2 separate regions of the Homo sapiens genome follow, and region 2 is linked to region 1. Evidence: fine-mapped expression QTL. Tissue or cell type: prefrontal cortex. Region 1 holds a variant in brackets; the other region holds the start of a gene. All regions are shown on one strand. Distances are between the middles of the regions.

Region 1 (8,103 bases):
GAAAGCCCAGGAAAGCAGCTGACGGCTATCCTGGGCACAGTGGGGCGGGCTGTCTCAGGCATAAAGGGATGGCTATCCTGGGCACAGCGGGGCGGGTTGTCCTGGAGGCGGGCTGCACCATCCTCATGGGGGCCCTCCAGTGGGGCTTTCCTGTCTCCTGAGTGTACACAGGCCCCAGTGAAGGAGCCCGGTGTGGAGCCCCATACCACAGCATGTTTCAGTGTCTGCTATATTGTGAGCCTAAGCCACCCACCACAGGGCTTGACCCTGCGACCGTCCTCTCATTTCTAGAACGGGAAAGCACAGTGCTTCTCCTTGAGGGTTAAAAGGATGCTGCTGGGTGTCAGGGACTTAGCCTAGCGCCTGGGAGGTAGGTGGAGTGAATGTGAGTTGTTTCTCTCCCCTGCCTGCTGGCACCTGAGCCCCAGGCCTGCCTGCTCTTGTCTTCTGCAGGCCCCGCAGGGTGGAGCCCGTCTGCTCAGGGTTGCAGGCCCAGATTCTCCACTGCTACCGAGATCGCCCGCATGAGGTGCTGCTGTGCTCGGACCTGGTCAAGGCATACCAGCGCTGCGTGAGCGCCGCCCACAAGGTAAGGCCTTGCCTGCCTCCCAGGTTTCCAAGGGCCTTGGGAGGTAGGCGAGGTACCTCTATCTAGCATTGGAGATCTCTGCCTGCCTTTTCCTGTTAGAATCAGATGCTCCACTTGGAGGTCTCTGCATTTGCCAAGGGAGGGATTCTTCGCTTTCCTCAGTCACCTGCACACTCTCCTGGCTGCTTCCAGGAGCGCCTTGGACATCTGGCCCCAGGGAGATGATCCCTGTTGCGTTTGCCCTATTAGGCTGGGTGGGAGCAGGCTGGGTAAAGTCAGGCCCCACCTTCAAGGGCCGGGCCCCTTGTGGGTGCCGGGGACTTCTTAGCCCTCGGCACTTAGGGGTGGGAGGGTGGCAGAGGCCCGAGTGCAGAGTGGGGGTCCCAGCAAGGATAGGCCATCTGGAAGAGGAGTGGGAGCAGATGTGGCCATCAGAAGCTGCTCACAGCCACCCTGCCCTGAGCTGGTCTACAGGGGTGTGCTGGCTTGGCCTTCCTGGTGAGTGGTCCCAAGCCTCATGTGCTCTCTGGTCACCTCCCACTCCAGTGGGCCTCGGTTGTCCTGGATGCCTGTGATGCGCTCCCAGCCAGCTCCTACTGCCTTCCTCCCCCACCCCCAACTGCTGCTCTCTATCCTAGATAAGTCCTCCCCCTTCCCAGGTCCCGTAGCGTCCTCTGGTGCAGTCAGGCTGTTCCCAGCCATACCTCACCCTTGCCCCACCCCAACAGGACAGCTCCCACCTTGGGGAGCATCATTCACTCTCAGAACACCTAGTTTGGGCTCCCCAAGGAGTGCGGCCTGTTTGTGAAAATGTATGGGAGAAACAACAGGACGAGGTCTCCTTTCCCACGTAAAAGCCTCTTTGGCCTGAGTAGGAGACAGGCTGCTTTAGGTACTTGGGATGGAAAAGGCTGAGGCCAGATGCTCTGTGCTCTCCAGCCATGTCCAAGGGGAGATCTGTCCCACTGAACTGAGCGGGGTCCTGCAGCCCCAGGCCTGCAAGAGCTTCCTTGGGTCATGCCCTGCTCACACCCATCTGCCAAGGCTGATTGTTCCACTCTTTGCTGGTCACAGCCCCGTCCAGCACCGACTGTCCCTTCATGGCCAGAACACAGCCCAGAAGTAGCTCCACACAGGATGAGTGGTCGCAAGGCCTCTGTCAGCCTTCCAAGAGAGGGAAGCCCTGGGTAGGACAGGCGGCCTCCTCCTCCATCTCAGAGGATGGAAGGCTGCTCACTCTGCTTCCACGTGGGCAGGAGGCGCTGGGGCACTGGGTAGGCTGGGCCAGACCAGGGCCCTTCGCACCGACCAGACACTTAGCTCCCTACTCACCAGCAAAGTGAAGCCTCCAGATCCTCCACACACCCAATCAAGGGCAGCTCCGAGTCTCTGTTCATCACACACCTAACTCTTTACCGAGGGATCTGCTGCAGCCTCTTGGCTTCCTGGCAGGGCCTACGCCTCAGTGGCCAGCCCTAGACTCCATCCTCTCTCCATCCAGCCCCACCTCTGTGGTAGTTTTCAGCCCCTACCCACCACCCCTAAGAGTATTTCTTTAACAAACACACCTCACCAATATATCTTCCTCGCACCAAGGCAAAAATGTGATTACCAAGGAAGACAGATCACATTAAACCCCAGTGTATTCCCTGAGAGAGGCTCTGGGACACTGCCAGGTCTGGCTCCCTCCTTCCCGGCCCCTACCCCTGACATGACTAGCAAAGAAACCAGAGACTGAGCAATGGCAGTGCCAGAGGCCTGCCTGCTCTCCCCACGTGCTGCCTTGGCAGTGTGTGTGCATTTGGAGACGGCATATTCAACCTGACTCCCTCGGAGCCCCAGCACCCAGGCACTTGGGTGGTGCCCTGTGTGTGAGATGTGGCAAGTGCTGGAGAAACTCTCACCACCCTTCGCCAGCCTTCGCCTCAGAAGGCTGCTGGCAGAACCAGAGAGCGGGGAGTGAAGGGTCCCTAAGAGGGATTTGCTTATGCAAGGGGCCAAACAGCAGGGGACAGAGGCCCACATGGTCAAGGGCCTTGGGGTGGGGCAGCACTGCTTCTCTCTCCAGGATCTAACATCTGCCCTGGGGCTCCTAGGGCAGGTAGGTGATGCCTAGGCCCAGAGCCTGGCACCTGCCTGTGTGCAGATGTGCTGGGCATCTCAGATGAGGACAGGGGCCTCAGGCTGTCCACCACAGGACCCTGACTGTGCGGACCCCAGCATCCCAGCAGGCTCCTGCTGAGCTGTGAAAAATCAGAGAACAGAGGGGAGGCCTTGATGAGGCAGAGCAGAGTTGGGTTAGACTCTTCTATATCCAGGGTGCTTGTCAGAAACACCGCAGCAGGTTGAGGGGGCAGGGGCAGGGGACCTGCCTTCTGAGCCAGCCCTGGGAGAGTAAAGGAAAGGGGAGCGGGTTCTGGTGTCACTGTCGTGTGGAGTGAGGGCCCGTCCCCTGTTGCTGGGGACTGTGCTGGGCTCCGGGGTACAGAGGTGAAGAGACTCACTGATGGGTCTCCAGGTGAGGAGGGAGACCAACTCACAGCTGCTCCCTGGGAAGCGGTTGCTGTCACAGGGCGATCTGCACGGAGCTGGAGGGCATGGGCGGAGTGGGCCCTGACTCAACTCTGACCTGTTCTCTTTGTAGGGCTGAGGAGCAGACATCATTCCCTGCCCTGGCAGTGACTTGGAGCCCTGAAGAAGGGACCAATCATGGGACCACAGCCACT[G/C]TGCCCTGCCGTTTCCTGCTGGGCCCCTGCATATGCCCCTGAGCCTGGGGCTGCCACGTGTTTAGGAAACAAAGTATGCGCTACTGTCTGAAAACAAATAAAGCAGATGCCTTTGTTTTCAGTCGTTGACTCACTGGCAAACAGTCACTGCTGCCTACTCTGCGTCCAGCCCTCTGCTGGACACCAGCGAAGTGGAGCTGAGGAAGATGGGCTGCTCCCCTCGGGGAGTCCCTGGCCTGGCAGGGGAGATGGCCTGAGAACCCCTAATTACATTGCAGCAGCAGCAGCAGCAGCAGCAGGCTGCCGCGGAAACAGGGAGGAGAAGGAAAGGGAGCAGGCCTTTCTAGGGATGGCACAGAGGGAGAGCAGGCCAGCTTCCTGCAGCGAGTGCTGCCTGCGCCCGGGGCGGAAGCTGACCAGACGAGGGCAGGGCGGGCCGGAGACCCAGCAGAGGGGATCCCAGGTGTGAGGGCAGCAGGCAGTGGAGGAGAGCAAAGGTGGTCAAGGCAGGCAGGCGGCGCGGCTGCAGAGGCGGCAGGACTGCAGTGCAGCAGGCTGAGTTGGCACTGTCTCTGAGTGATGTTGCTCCGGCTGTCAGGTGGTGCCAGGGAGACAGGACTCGATGCCAGGGAACATCACCAGTGTGGAGGGCCCCGCACAGCTCAAGCCCAGGGCGGGTTAGTGGGGCTGATTGGCAGGACTGAAACCGACTGAGCGACAGAAGAGGCCAGGTGACTTTGAAGTCTCTGACTTGGGTGTTGGGGGTTCTAAAATAAGGAATGCAGGGATTGAGGAGGGCAGATGACAAAGTGGGTTTGGGACATGCTCTGCCTGGTTGGTGTCCAAACACTGGACTTCCAGTCCTTGTCCTTTAGCCACGTCCTCCAGCCAAGGTGCCCTGACCACACTCAGCCTGTACCACGCCAGCAGGAGGATTTTGGGTTGGAGCCTGGGATCCTCTAACTGCTCTGCCGGTGACCTTGGGTTTCCTGATAGAGCCCTTGGGGAGTCCCCATGCCATCTGGAGCTGAAAGCCTGCAGCCTTGACTCAGGCTTGGCAGCACAAACTTCCCTTCTCAGATTCTCACACTCAGAGCTCAAGGGGTGGGTTGGGGCTTGGGCGTGTCCTACTGGCTGGGCGGGTAGTATACTAGCAGCCAGACAGACAGCTTTGGGAGACTCCCTTTCTAGGAGTCCCGGGTCAGCCTGTGGAAATGCACAAGGAGACTCCATGTGGTGTGATGCGGCGAGGAGGGGTGGGGTGCACTGGGCACCCTGGCCTGAGCCCTTCAGGGAGGGGCCTACTAAGAGGAGGGGTGAGGGGTCACAGGTCAGGCCTATCCACCATGCTGTTCTGACTCCCTCAGAAGCATTTGGCTTCCAGGGCTTTGTCCAACTTCAGATCTCACAGGAATAACTTTCAGCTGTTCATCCTCTCCTCCAGGTGTCACTTTTGGGGGTTGGGGACGCATCCTGGGGTGGGAAACAGACTCCCAGGTACACAGACACCTGTGGGCTGGATGCTGTCTGAGCCTGTACCAGCTGGCTCTGTCTGGGTAACAAACCACCCCCAGACCTCGTAGCTTAAAACAACGCCCATTTTATGTGGCTCATGATTCTGCTGGGTGGAGCCTACGGCCCAGGCCCACTCATGTCAGCCAACAGACCTGTGACCTCAAATGGCCTCCTGTGTCCAGCGGCCAGCGGCCCCATGGTTTCTTCCAAATGGCCCCTCCTTCTCCAGGCTAGCTCAGGTTCCAGTTTCAGGCTCCAGCACAGCCAGAGAGCCAGCTTCCAGGGGCAAGCACTTCCTGATCCTCTGCCTGCAACCCCTGGTTCCTTCATTCCCTGGTAGCCAGTCTGGTCAGATTGCAGTTGGCCTGAGAGGAGTGAAAAGACCTCTTTGGCCTCTGAGCTCCACAAAGCCACCTCCTGCTTTGGGAATGAGGCCAGAACGAGGTCGGCAGTGGCAGTGGCGGGTAGCAGCAACAGCCCTTTCCTGCCTGGGCAGGGCCTGTGCAAAGAAGCATCCAGAGACAGAGGCTGGTAGAGCAGCCTCATGAGATGGCACCGTTGCCCGCACGTCACTGCATGATTGACTCAGACCAGGAGCTGATGAAGGTTTGAAGGCCAAAGAGCAGAGCTGGGAAGCAAGGCCACAGGTGTGGGAGGTGCAGGGCAGGGGCCATAAGGCTCTGTAGGGGCTCATGCAGAATCCAGGGCCCTTCCTTGAGGTCCCCCACTGCCTCTGGCTGGCCAGGTCTGCCTACCCCTCTCCCTCCTCCCCATAGTGTCCTTAGCCCTGGGCCTCCCACACCCCCAAATCCACACATCTGTCCCCAGATCTTGCTGGATTTTCATAAACTTCCACTTGGTCCTGAAAATAAGACTCACGCCTGACCCTGACCAGTCTGTCCACTTCCCACCTCCATGTCTGGCTCATGGCCCGCGCCTGAGGCTCTAGCCTCCTCCTCTTCCAGGCTCTGTGCGGGAGCTTCTGGTCTCCTTCCACATTACTCAAGGGTTAAGCCCTGTGTGAGTCCTCGCAGCCCTCCTCCTGGGTGCCCACCCAGCCCCGACACAGGCCTCCAACCCAAAGGCAACACAGTGTGTGCACAGCCTGCCAGCTTCTCAAGACCAGCCTGACGTGGGCTCCCATTAGCCACCCCTGTGGTCCCTGGTATAGGCAGGTAGGGAGTCGTTTGGGGACCAGGACTAGTGAATGAATGAGATGTAAGGACCATTACCAGCTTCTTCAGCATTTCCGGGCCTGCTGGCATCTCCCTGGAGTCCGGGTCTTGGCACCTCCTGTAGTGGGTTCAGGCAGGAAGGGAGCCCGGTGCACACAGGAAAATCCACAGGCTCTGCAGGCCTGGGGGCCTCAGTTTAAATCCTGACTCTGCCTCCTGTTGGTTGCCAAGAAAGGCCAGCAATTCCCTTAGGCCTGAGCCTCAGTTTCCTCATTACAGAACAACTAAAGCAGTGTCTAAGATTTATAGGGAACACCTGTGGCCCACTCTGCATCCACCCGTCTTCTTTTAGAAATAGCTTTTCAAGTTTTCTGAAGAACCACTCTCCCCAACTCTATCAACGATTCCTGTTCCCCCCTTCCCACCACCTTCACCTCCACACAGGGAGAGGGTTCTAGAGAGCAGAGCCAGCAGAGGCACACAGCCAAGGGATGGAGAGACTGTGCAAGGTCATTGAGCACCTGGATCCAGCCAGACCTGAAGTTAACATGAGCTAGCAAGTTTCCCTTTTTGTTTGAACTGGGTTTTTGTCATTTGCAACAGGACTTCTCTGTGAGAGAGCGTTGTTCTGGGAAGCAAATGATCTGCTGTCAGCGCCTGGCTTCCCTTTCCTTTGAGCCAAGTTGAGGTGGCAGGTTTGACTCTTCCCAGCCTGGGGAGGGGAGCACTGGCTTACACTGACTCTCCCCTCAGGGCAGCTTCAGAAGCTATCCCAGGCCCAGCTACAGACTCTGCCATAGGGACCACAGGGCAAGACTCAGGAATGGACTTTGTAACTGGAGAGGAGCAGACAGACGTGCTAGTGGCAAAGTCTGAGGCACTGATAGGGAGGTGGGGGAAGCGTTTTGGGATTTCTTCAACCAGACCAGTTGGAAGTGAGGCACCCACACACACCTCACCTGGTGAGCTCCTATCCATCCTTAGGGTCCCAGCTCCGACTTCCACCCCTCTGTGCCCCCACCCACAGCTACACACCTTTAGGTAGAGGCTGGAGGCTCCTGTGAGTGAGTCCCTACAGTCTTCACCTGAGGGGCTGGAGGCCAGGCCTGGGGGGCTCCAGTGGATGGGGCTCTACTCCCCAAACTCCAGCACCCCTGAAGGACCAGGGCATGTTCAACCATTTCTATCCACTTCTTTCTCCCTCATTGTTTTCTGGGGGCTTTGGATTGGGATGAGGGAACGAGCTCCTGACAGTGCACATGACATTGTGCATTCCTCTCCTTGGGTCTCGGTGTCCACCATGCAGGATGACTGTGCGAATGTGTGTGCATTCATGTGAACTGTGTGTCCAAGTACGCAAGTGTGTGTGTATGGGTCTGTGTGCACATGTCCATCCTGCGTGTGTATCCATGTGTGTGCACACGTGAGTGCATGGTGTGCCAGCACACATGTGCAAGCATGTGCATAGGTATGTGTGTGTGTACCTGTCCATTCACATGTGTTCATGTCTGTGCATGTGTACTTGAGTTTGTGCACAAGCAGCCAGCCATGCTCGGCACCTGCGGATCCTCACGGGCTCTTCCCAGCCTGGATATCATCTCATTTCTCCACTTTCTCAGAGCCAGATCTTTGCCCCTCCCCTGCTGGAGACTGTGTGTGTGCTGGAGCCATCTGTAACACTGCATTGGAATGTGAATGTGTGTGTGCTCTCATGTGTACCTACACCTCAGTACCTCCACGTGTGTGGTAGGAGGTCAGGTCTGAGAGAGAAATGCACAGGTGAGGGGTGTGTCCAGCAGGGTGTGCACCTGGAGGCGGGTGCTGCAGGCTCATGCCCTGGCTGAGTGACCCTTAAGCAGGAGTATTAATACTCATCCCACCAGTTGCTTGGTGATGACATTGGTTGTATCATTCAGGGTCCAACCAGGAAAACAGCACCCTTGCTTTTGAGCAGGGGGAGTTGAATGCAAGGGATTGGTCACAAAGGAGATGGAGGAACTGAAAACCCAGATGGGATAGTGTGAGAGGTAACTCAGATCAGCAGCCATAGGACCTCCCGCCACCTGGGGCTGCAGAGACAGAGGGAAGAGGCAAGATC
Region 2 (8,103 bases), 260 kb before region 1:
TAGATTACAGTTCACTATGTATGGATCAACCTTTAGGCTGAACTTACAAGGAAGCAGCTTTAGGCTAAAGTTAACTATACAGAAATAGGATTATTAGATTGTATTGACTTTTGGGGGAGTTGCCATACTCTCTCCCATAATGGCTCTACAAATTTATATTCCCACCAGCAGTGTGCAGGGTTCTCTTTTCTCTACATCCTCACCAACACTTCTCTTGTCTTTATTACAATACTGATTCTCACAGGTGTAAGGTGATATCTCACCATGGTTTTAATTTGCATTTCTCTGATGATTAGTGGTGTTGAGCGCTCTTCATATGCCTGTTAGCTATTCACATGTCTTCTTCAGAAAAATGTCTATTCAAGTCCTTTGCCCATTTTTAAATTGGGTATTTATTTTTGCTATTGAGTTGTGTGAGTTCCTTATAGAGTATATTTGGATATTAAGCACTTATCAGATATATGGTGCCCAAATATTTTCTCCCAGTCTGTAGGTTGCCTTTTCAGTTTGCTGCTTGTTTCCTCTTATGTGGAGAAGCTTTTTTAGTTTGATGTCATACCATTCGTTTATTTTTACTTTTGTTGTTTGTGCTTTTGGTGTTATAGCCAAAAAAATTATCATCAAGACCAATGATAAGAAGCTTTCCACCTATGTTTTCTTCTAGGAGTTTTGGGGTTTCAGATCTCACATTTAAGTCTTCAATTCATTTTGAATGGATTTTTTATGTGGTGTAATACAAGGGTCCAATTTCCTTCTTTTGAATGTGGATATCCCGTATTTCCAGCTCCAATTATTGAAGAGACTTTCCTTTCTCCATAGTGTGTATATTCTCGGCACCATTATCAAACATTAGTAGACCATATATGCATGGGCTCTCTATTTTTCTGCATTGATCTATGTATCTATTTTTATGCCAGTACCATACTCTTTTGATTACTACAGCTTTGTAATATAGTTTGAAATCAGGGAGTATGATGCCTTCAGCTTTCTGCTTCTTTCTCAAGATTGCTTTGATGATTTGGGGTCTTTTGTGGTTCCATATGAAATGTTAGAATTGTTTTTTCTATTTATGTGAAAAATGTCATTAGAATTTTGATAATGATGACATTGAATGTGTAGATTACTTTGGGTAGTAAAGCCATTTTAACAATATTAATTCTTCTGATCTATAAACACAGGCTATCTTTCTACTTATTTATGTCTCCTATAGTATCTTTCAACAGTGTCTTATAATTTTTAGTGTGCAATTTTTTGTGTGCATCTTTCTTTCACCTCCTTGGTTAAATTTATTCATATTTTATTCTTTTTGGTGTTATTGTAAGTGGGATCATTTTCTTAATTTCTTTTTGAATAGTTTGTTGTCAGAAATCAGTAATAGGAAGAACTTTGGAAAATTCACACATGTGCGGAAATTAAACAACACATTCCTGAACAGCCAATGAGCCAAAGAATAAATCAAAAGGGGAATAAACAAGTATCTTGAGACAAATGAAAATGGAAACACAAGGTACCACAACTTATAGGATGCAATAGAAACATTTTTAAGAGGGAAGTTTATAGCGAAAAATACCTACATTAAGAAAAAAGAAAGACATCAAACAACCTAATTTTATATCTCAAGGAACTAGAAGAGGAACAAACTAAGCCCCAAAGTCAGCAGACTGAAGGAAATAAAAAAGATGAGAGCAGAAATAGAAACTAGAAAAACAACAGAAAAGATCAACAGTAAAGATCAACAAAATTAACAAACCTTAGCTAGACTAACCAAGAAAAAAGGTAATTCACATAAACAAAAGTATAAATGAAAGAGGAGACATTACAACTGATATCACAGAAATACAAAAGATCATAATCAACTACTATGAACAATTATACACCAAGAAACTGGATAATTTAGGAGAAATGGACGAATTCCCAGAAACATACCATCTATCCAAACTGAGTCTTGAAGAAACAGAAAATCTGAACAGACCAATAACGAGTAAGGAGATTGAATTAGTAATCATAAACCTCCAAGGAAAAGAGACAAAGGAAAGCCCAGGACCAGGTCTGACCACATCTTTACTCAGTTTTCCCCGCGGCCCCCGGTCCCCACCCCTCTTAGCCTGTCTCCCTAACTTCCTTTCTCCTGAGGTGCTCCCCCAGGAAACTCCTTGCACCAGAATCCCCTACGCAGGCTCTGCTTATAGGGAAGAAATGGACGACAGAGGTGATGGAGTGGGGTGCGCCAATGAAGTATTTTGAATGAAACTAGCAGACACCTTTGTTCCTAAAGATTCCATCGTCACACCAGCTCTGGGATGTTTACTAGCTTCTTCACCCTGAGCTATTCTCAATCTCAGAGCCTTACTGCTCTCTCTCAATCATTCTCTCCTCCTCACCCCTTTCTTTCCAGGTTGCCAATAGGAGCTCCAAATATTTTCTGGCTATTTCATGTAGCCATCTAGTTTTCCTCAGCTCGGCTTCAGGCGCACTTTTGCAAATCAAAGCCATTCAGCAACTCAGAGGAACAAAAAGGGGCTTATTTGAAGGTAGCAGTGTCTATGACTGGCAACCGTCTGTGTGCTCCCTTACACATAGGGTCCTGTGTAAGAAGCCTACACACAATGCCTGGCACACTGCACTCCACACATGGTATGTACACTCCTTGGGCAATGCCTCCTAACGGCTTAGGACCATTCCCTGTCCTCCCGGGGCGTTTAGAATAAAACCCACACTCAGACCCTGCCTCACAAGACCCGACATGATTTGGGTCCTCACCACTCCTCTGCCCTCTTCTCACTTTCCAGCCATGGGATGACCCCTCTTTCTCTTTTCCTGCCTGAGACTCCCAGGAAACCTCTTCCCCTACCTTTTTCTACATAAATCCTACTCTCCCGCCGGCTCAGTTCAAAGCTTCTTCCTCAGAGGTTGCTCTGGCCACTGAAATTAAAAGAGGCCTCCTTCTGTTCATTTTACTAGTGGCATCGCCATGCAGTTTTCCGTGTATTACAGTCAGTTTCCTTGCGTGCGTGTTTGGCTTTTCACTTGTTTTCCCCTTGCACTGTAAACCTCTCAAGGGCAGGACACTCGCTGTCTTGAGGGGCGCTGTAATGCCAGGGCCAGGTCCCTGCTCGTCTGGCGCTCAGCCCGTGCTGCTCTACACGTGTTTGCTGAATGAATGGAGCAGTGAACCCTCAGAAATTCGCCTCCAGATGAGCGCCTTGGCCGTCTCGGCGTCTCCTGGCCTCAGAACATCACCCTTGGCTCTCCCTCAAGGGGGAGCTCCCAAAGCGAGAACGTGACCCTGTCCTGCACCCAGCCCTCCACTCCAGGGCCTCCGCCGGTACACATCTTCGGCCTCAGCCTAACGCACTCTAGCAGGCACAGACCGCCACGCCCCCACCCCTCCAGACGGAAGGACTGCAATCCCCACAAGGCACCGCGACTCAGCGCCACCCGATTGGTGAAGCCTCTGGCGTCGGCCAATAGGACGTGGCTTTGTTGGCGTGTGCCGCGGCCGCGCGAGTCCTGGAAAGCGTTGTTGGCCCGGTTGCTCTGGAGCCGGGTCTCGGGTCTGGTGGCTGCCGGCCCTGCGGCATCTCGCCATGGGGAGCACGGAGAGCAGCGAGGGCCGCAGGGTGTCCTTCGGAGTGGACGAGGAGGAGCGGGTCCGGGTGCTGCAGGGTGTCCGGGTGAGCGGCGCCGCCTGGGCCGGGGCGGGCGTGGAGGCCGCGGGCGCGGGGGGGAGGTGCGGGGCGGAGCGCAGGGCCGGGGCTCTTTCCACGCGTGAGGGGCGTGGGGCTTGGGAGACTCCGGGGGCTCAGGCCAGGAAGAGGCTGAGCCGAGACGCGAGCCCGAGGCTGGCAGCCTTGGAGCTTCGCGACATGGGCTTCAGGGAAGGAGGAGTGAAGAACTGTACAGGTGCGAGGCCCCTGGGACACGAGGGACGCCCTGGCCACGTCCTGGCTCCGGTCGGCTTAGTTTTTACGTTTCTTGAATTTGCGCCCGGCCTCCCAGCCCGTGGCCCCTCAGGTGCGCGCATCTCGTTCTGGGTACGCGGTGTCTCCCACCTGGGCTTTGCCTGGGGACTCAGCTCTTCCCCGCCGGCCTGTTCTCCACAGCACATCTGCGGGGCGCAGGAAGAACCATAGCTCAGATCTGATCCCCTTCCTTGCCTGAAACCCTCCAGTGGGTTCCTAGCGCGCTTGGATGATGCCTTCCCTGGTTCCAAAGCTGGCCGCTGCCCGTCGACCTCTGGGGACTGCATCCCTCTGGGACTGCATCTCGTGCCATTTCCCTCGCGTGGCACCCGCACCTCGTCCCCAGCCTCAGGACCGCCGTGTTTTCCTGGAGGGTGCCGCTGGCTCAGCTCAGGGTCTGTGCGCCGGCTGTTCTCTCTCCTTCAGCTCTCCTTAAATCCCGCTGTTTCTTGTAATTCTTGTTGTAATTCAGATATCACCAGAGAATCCTTCCCTGACCACCCAATCTGAAGTAACCTCCCACCCCGCGTCCAACATTTATTATTTTCATAGCACTCATCACAGTGATCGCTTCTGTTGATAATTGTTTACTTGTTTATTGCGTTTACTGCTAGAGTGTAAGCTTTTTGAGGCTAAGGTTCCTGTCTGATTGAAGACTGTCCCCAGAACCCAGAAGAATAAAAGCAGCTCTTATTGCAGTGTAGGGGCCATGCGTTGGACTAAACCCTTTATAAGTTAACTGATTTAATTTTCAACAGCCCTATTTAGCCCATTATTGTAGATTAAGGAGAAGTGAGGCACTGAGAGGTGAACGAACTGATCCAAGATCATGTAAATAGTAAGTGGGAGAGCTGGGATTGAAACAAGCCAATTCCAGGGCATGTTGCTGTGCTCGGCCTCTTCCTCCACCTGTGTCTACACCTGCAGGTGCTTTGTAAGTAACTGTGGAGAGATGAATGAACCCAGTAAAAGGGACTAGGATTAAATGAAACGCACAGAGCTGGGTGTAGATGAATTAGTTAATTAAGGAGGAATTAGGGAGGTGGCTTAGAAAGACAGACTTCAGGAGTTCTGGCAGGTGCTCATTAGCTGTGTGACCTTGGGTAAAAAACTCTTTTGAGCCTCAATGGCCACATTAAAAAAAAAATTGGGTGTGTATGTATCCTAGGTACTGCCTAGGATAAGATGATGTCTGTGAAAGTGTTAAGGAAACGCACAGAGAGAGTGCTTTGTGGAGGCCTCTCTTCTTAGCCTAGCAGAGTACTTGGCACATTTGGTGCTTGCTAGGCGTTGTATAGTTTTGTGGACCTCACTCGTGGCAAGGATTAAATGGGGGAGGAGATGGCTTGTGTTGGAAGGCCGAGAGGGAGGAACCTGAATTGGAATTTAGAAAGATAAGCTTGGCTCTGTTTGGGTGCTCTCACCCTTGTGATTTGGTCTCCTGTTTTGGGGAATGTTGGAAAGTTAAGTTGGAGTCCTCAGAGGTTCAGGGGAGTGCCTTTGGGGGTGCCTTCTTTCAAGTTGATTGGAAACCTCATGTTTTTTGAGTATTATATAAGACAGGTACATTTCATTTCTAGTTCTCTTAAATACTTCTGCAACATATAAATTCTCTGTATTTAAAGATGGAGAATTGAGCTTAAAGGAGTTAAGGAATTTGCCCAAGGTGTTAACCTGAGTAACTTCTGGGACTTTAATTAAGATCTTTTCGGTGCAAAAAGCAACTTTTTCTCACTTCTGCAATTCCCCCCCATGATGTATGCAAGGCAGCCTGAAAATTTTGTGACAATACCCATACCTGTCCTGACAGGGATGATAGTGCCCCACTTAGTTTTAAAACTGGAAGGAACTTTGGTGACTGACTGCTTTCTTTTCCAGCTGGGCAAACTAATCAGAGAGGATAAATGACTTGTCCAGAGGTGCACAGTAAGGTGCACAGCCCCACGTTATGAGAGCCACGTCCTTCCTTCTGCTTGTGTTTGAAAGAGGAAAACTGAAGAAAGGAGGTGATGGTATGAAGAAAGGATGTTTTGGTGTAGAGGCTTTTTCTGTTAGCAGAGTTACTTGAGGGTTGAGGAATTCACCTTGTCTTTAGGCAAGTGAGTGAAAAAGATTGCCAGATCAACAAAACAGTTGCCAAAGGGAACAAATCAGTTCATTTAATGAGAAGCAGATGCCAAAGAAGATCTGCCCCAGCTTCTTTAGAGCAAGTTGAATATTCTTAATGACCATTTGTATTTAATTCCTGAGGCCTGGTCTTAGAAAGTGTTCTCGTCCCTGTAAGATTAAGTGTTAGTGGCTGGTAGTGGTGGCTCATGCCTGTAATTTCAGCACTTTGGGAGGCCGAAGTGGGCAGATCACCTGAGGTCAGGAGTTAAAGACCAGTCTGGCCAACATGGTGAAACCCTGCCTCTACCAAAAATACAAAAGTTAGCTGGGCATGGTGGCACACACCTGTACACCCAGCTACTTGGGAGGCTGAGGTAGGAGAATCCTTGAACCCAGGAGGGGGAGGTTGCAGTGAGCCGAGATTATGCCAGTGTCCTCCAGCCTGGGTGACAGAGACTCCGTCTTAAAAAAAAAAAAAAAAAAGATTAAGTGCTAGGCCTTGCTAGTTTACATACTTAGTTTGCATAAATTCACAAAGTGTGTTCAAACCGTAATTCCATGGAAGGTAAAAGAAATTTAATGAATGCAAAATGCTGCAGTTATATTCAACTCCAGTTTTCAGAGCAAATGTGTGAAATACGTAAAGATTTTGTTTTAACCAGTACATTTAACCTCATCCTTCAGTAAGAGAAGGCACACATGGCAGTCATGGCGCATATGTGTCTGCCTTCCCTCTCCTCCTCTCCACATGAGCCGCCCTTTTTGGTGATTCAGCTGATGTTGGTTGCTTGTGAGCATCCAGACTGCTCACTGTTCACCAGCCTTTCCCCCTTTCCCACCACTGAGCCCACCCCTGTTCCAGTCACTTGCATGTTCCCAGAGTCATTATCCCCTCCAGGCTTGATCAACTTTACCGTCATGCATTGCTCCCATGAGGCTGATTCTGGACCACGGTGGAGGGGAAGATCAAGAAGAATGTGGTCAGACACACAAGAGAGTCCCCCATTGTGCCAGTGCCAGAGAGGCCGTGTGCCAGAGCGCTGCACCTGCAACTGCCAGTTATTCCTCACCTCAGTGAATGTCCACTGCCTTCATGTTACTTGCCCAGCACTGGGCCTGGCCTTGCTGAGACAATGAGGGACAAAGCCGAGGACCCTGTCATCATAGAGACCTCAGCCCAGTAGGGAGAATGGACCAGAAAGGAAGAGACACAGGCAAAAGACTCAAAGAGCTGCCAGAGCTAAGGAGGAAACAAAAAGGGTGCAAAAGCTACTGGGGCTGCCTGCTTGAGGTGGGATGGTCAGGCAGTGCCTCTCAGGAGGAGATGTTGACTGTGGCCTGAGCCAGCCCTATGAAGAGTGCATATTCACTCTGTGCTAAGCACTCTGCCAAGTGTATTCAGAGCATCACCCCAGAAATTCCACATGCTTACCTTGTGAGGGGTCATTATCCCCATCTCAGAAGTGAGGAAACAGGTTCAGTGAGGTGAAGTAACCCAAGGTCACAGTGCTGGAACCTCAGGGTCTCTGACTCCATAGCCCATGTGCTTGGCAGCCACAAGGAGGGTAGGATGCTTGAGGATGTGGCAGGTGGTGAGGCCAGACTCAGGGCCCAAATGCCAGGCAGGGCTGTGAACATGTTATTCTGGAGGCCACGCTGCAGTTCTCTGGTCAGGAGCAGAGCTTTGGAAAGGTTCTGTCTGGTGACACTGATTTTTCTTTAAAAACAAAAACCAACAGTTGTAAGCCAGGTGCAGTGGTATGTACCTGTAGTCCCAGCTACATGGGAGGCTGAGGCAGGAGGATCACCTGAGCCCAGTGGTTCGAGTCCAGTGTAGCAAGACCCCATCTCTTGAAAAAAAAAAAAAAAAAGCTTTATTGGGATGCATCATTTTACATATTATAAAATTCACCCATTTCAATGCTTTTTAGTAAACTGTGGTGACAGAATTGGACAACTGTCACCACAATCCAATTATAGAACATTTACAAGACCTAAAAAGATGCCTTGACCTGTTTGCAGTCACTCCCCA

The links. PIP is the estimated chance that this variant, and not a neighbour inherited with it, causes the effect.
Region 2: it holds the start of CHCHD6, and the variant in region 1 is fine-mapped to the expression of CHCHD6 in prefrontal cortex (GTEx, PIP above 0.99). The same link has a PIP of 0.9 or more in anterior cingulate cortex, caudate, cerebral cortex and nucleus accumbens.

The regions. Positions count from the first base shown.
Region 1 is chr3:126,956,963-126,965,065 of GRCh38, forward strand. CHCHD6 (coiled-coil-helix-coiled-coil-helix domain containing 6) reads left to right here. Exons shown (of 8, transcript NM_032343.3): 7 at 454-589; 8 at 3,234-3,458. The coding sequence ends at 3,239. Among named protein-coding and RNA genes, the nearest start is that of PLXNA1, 22 kb to the right of the region's middle. RefSeq lists enhancers at 2,948-3,495, 4,593-5,141, 5,142-5,688. The variant G/C (reference allele first, on the strand shown) is at 3,316.
Region 2 is chr3:126,700,726-126,708,828 of GRCh38, forward strand. CHCHD6 (coiled-coil-helix-coiled-coil-helix domain containing 6) reads left to right here and starts at 3,515. Exons shown (of 8, transcript NM_032343.3): 1 at 3,515-3,674. The coding sequence starts at 3,588. RefSeq lists enhancers at 3,095-3,154, 4,215-4,766 and a silencer at 3,705-3,904.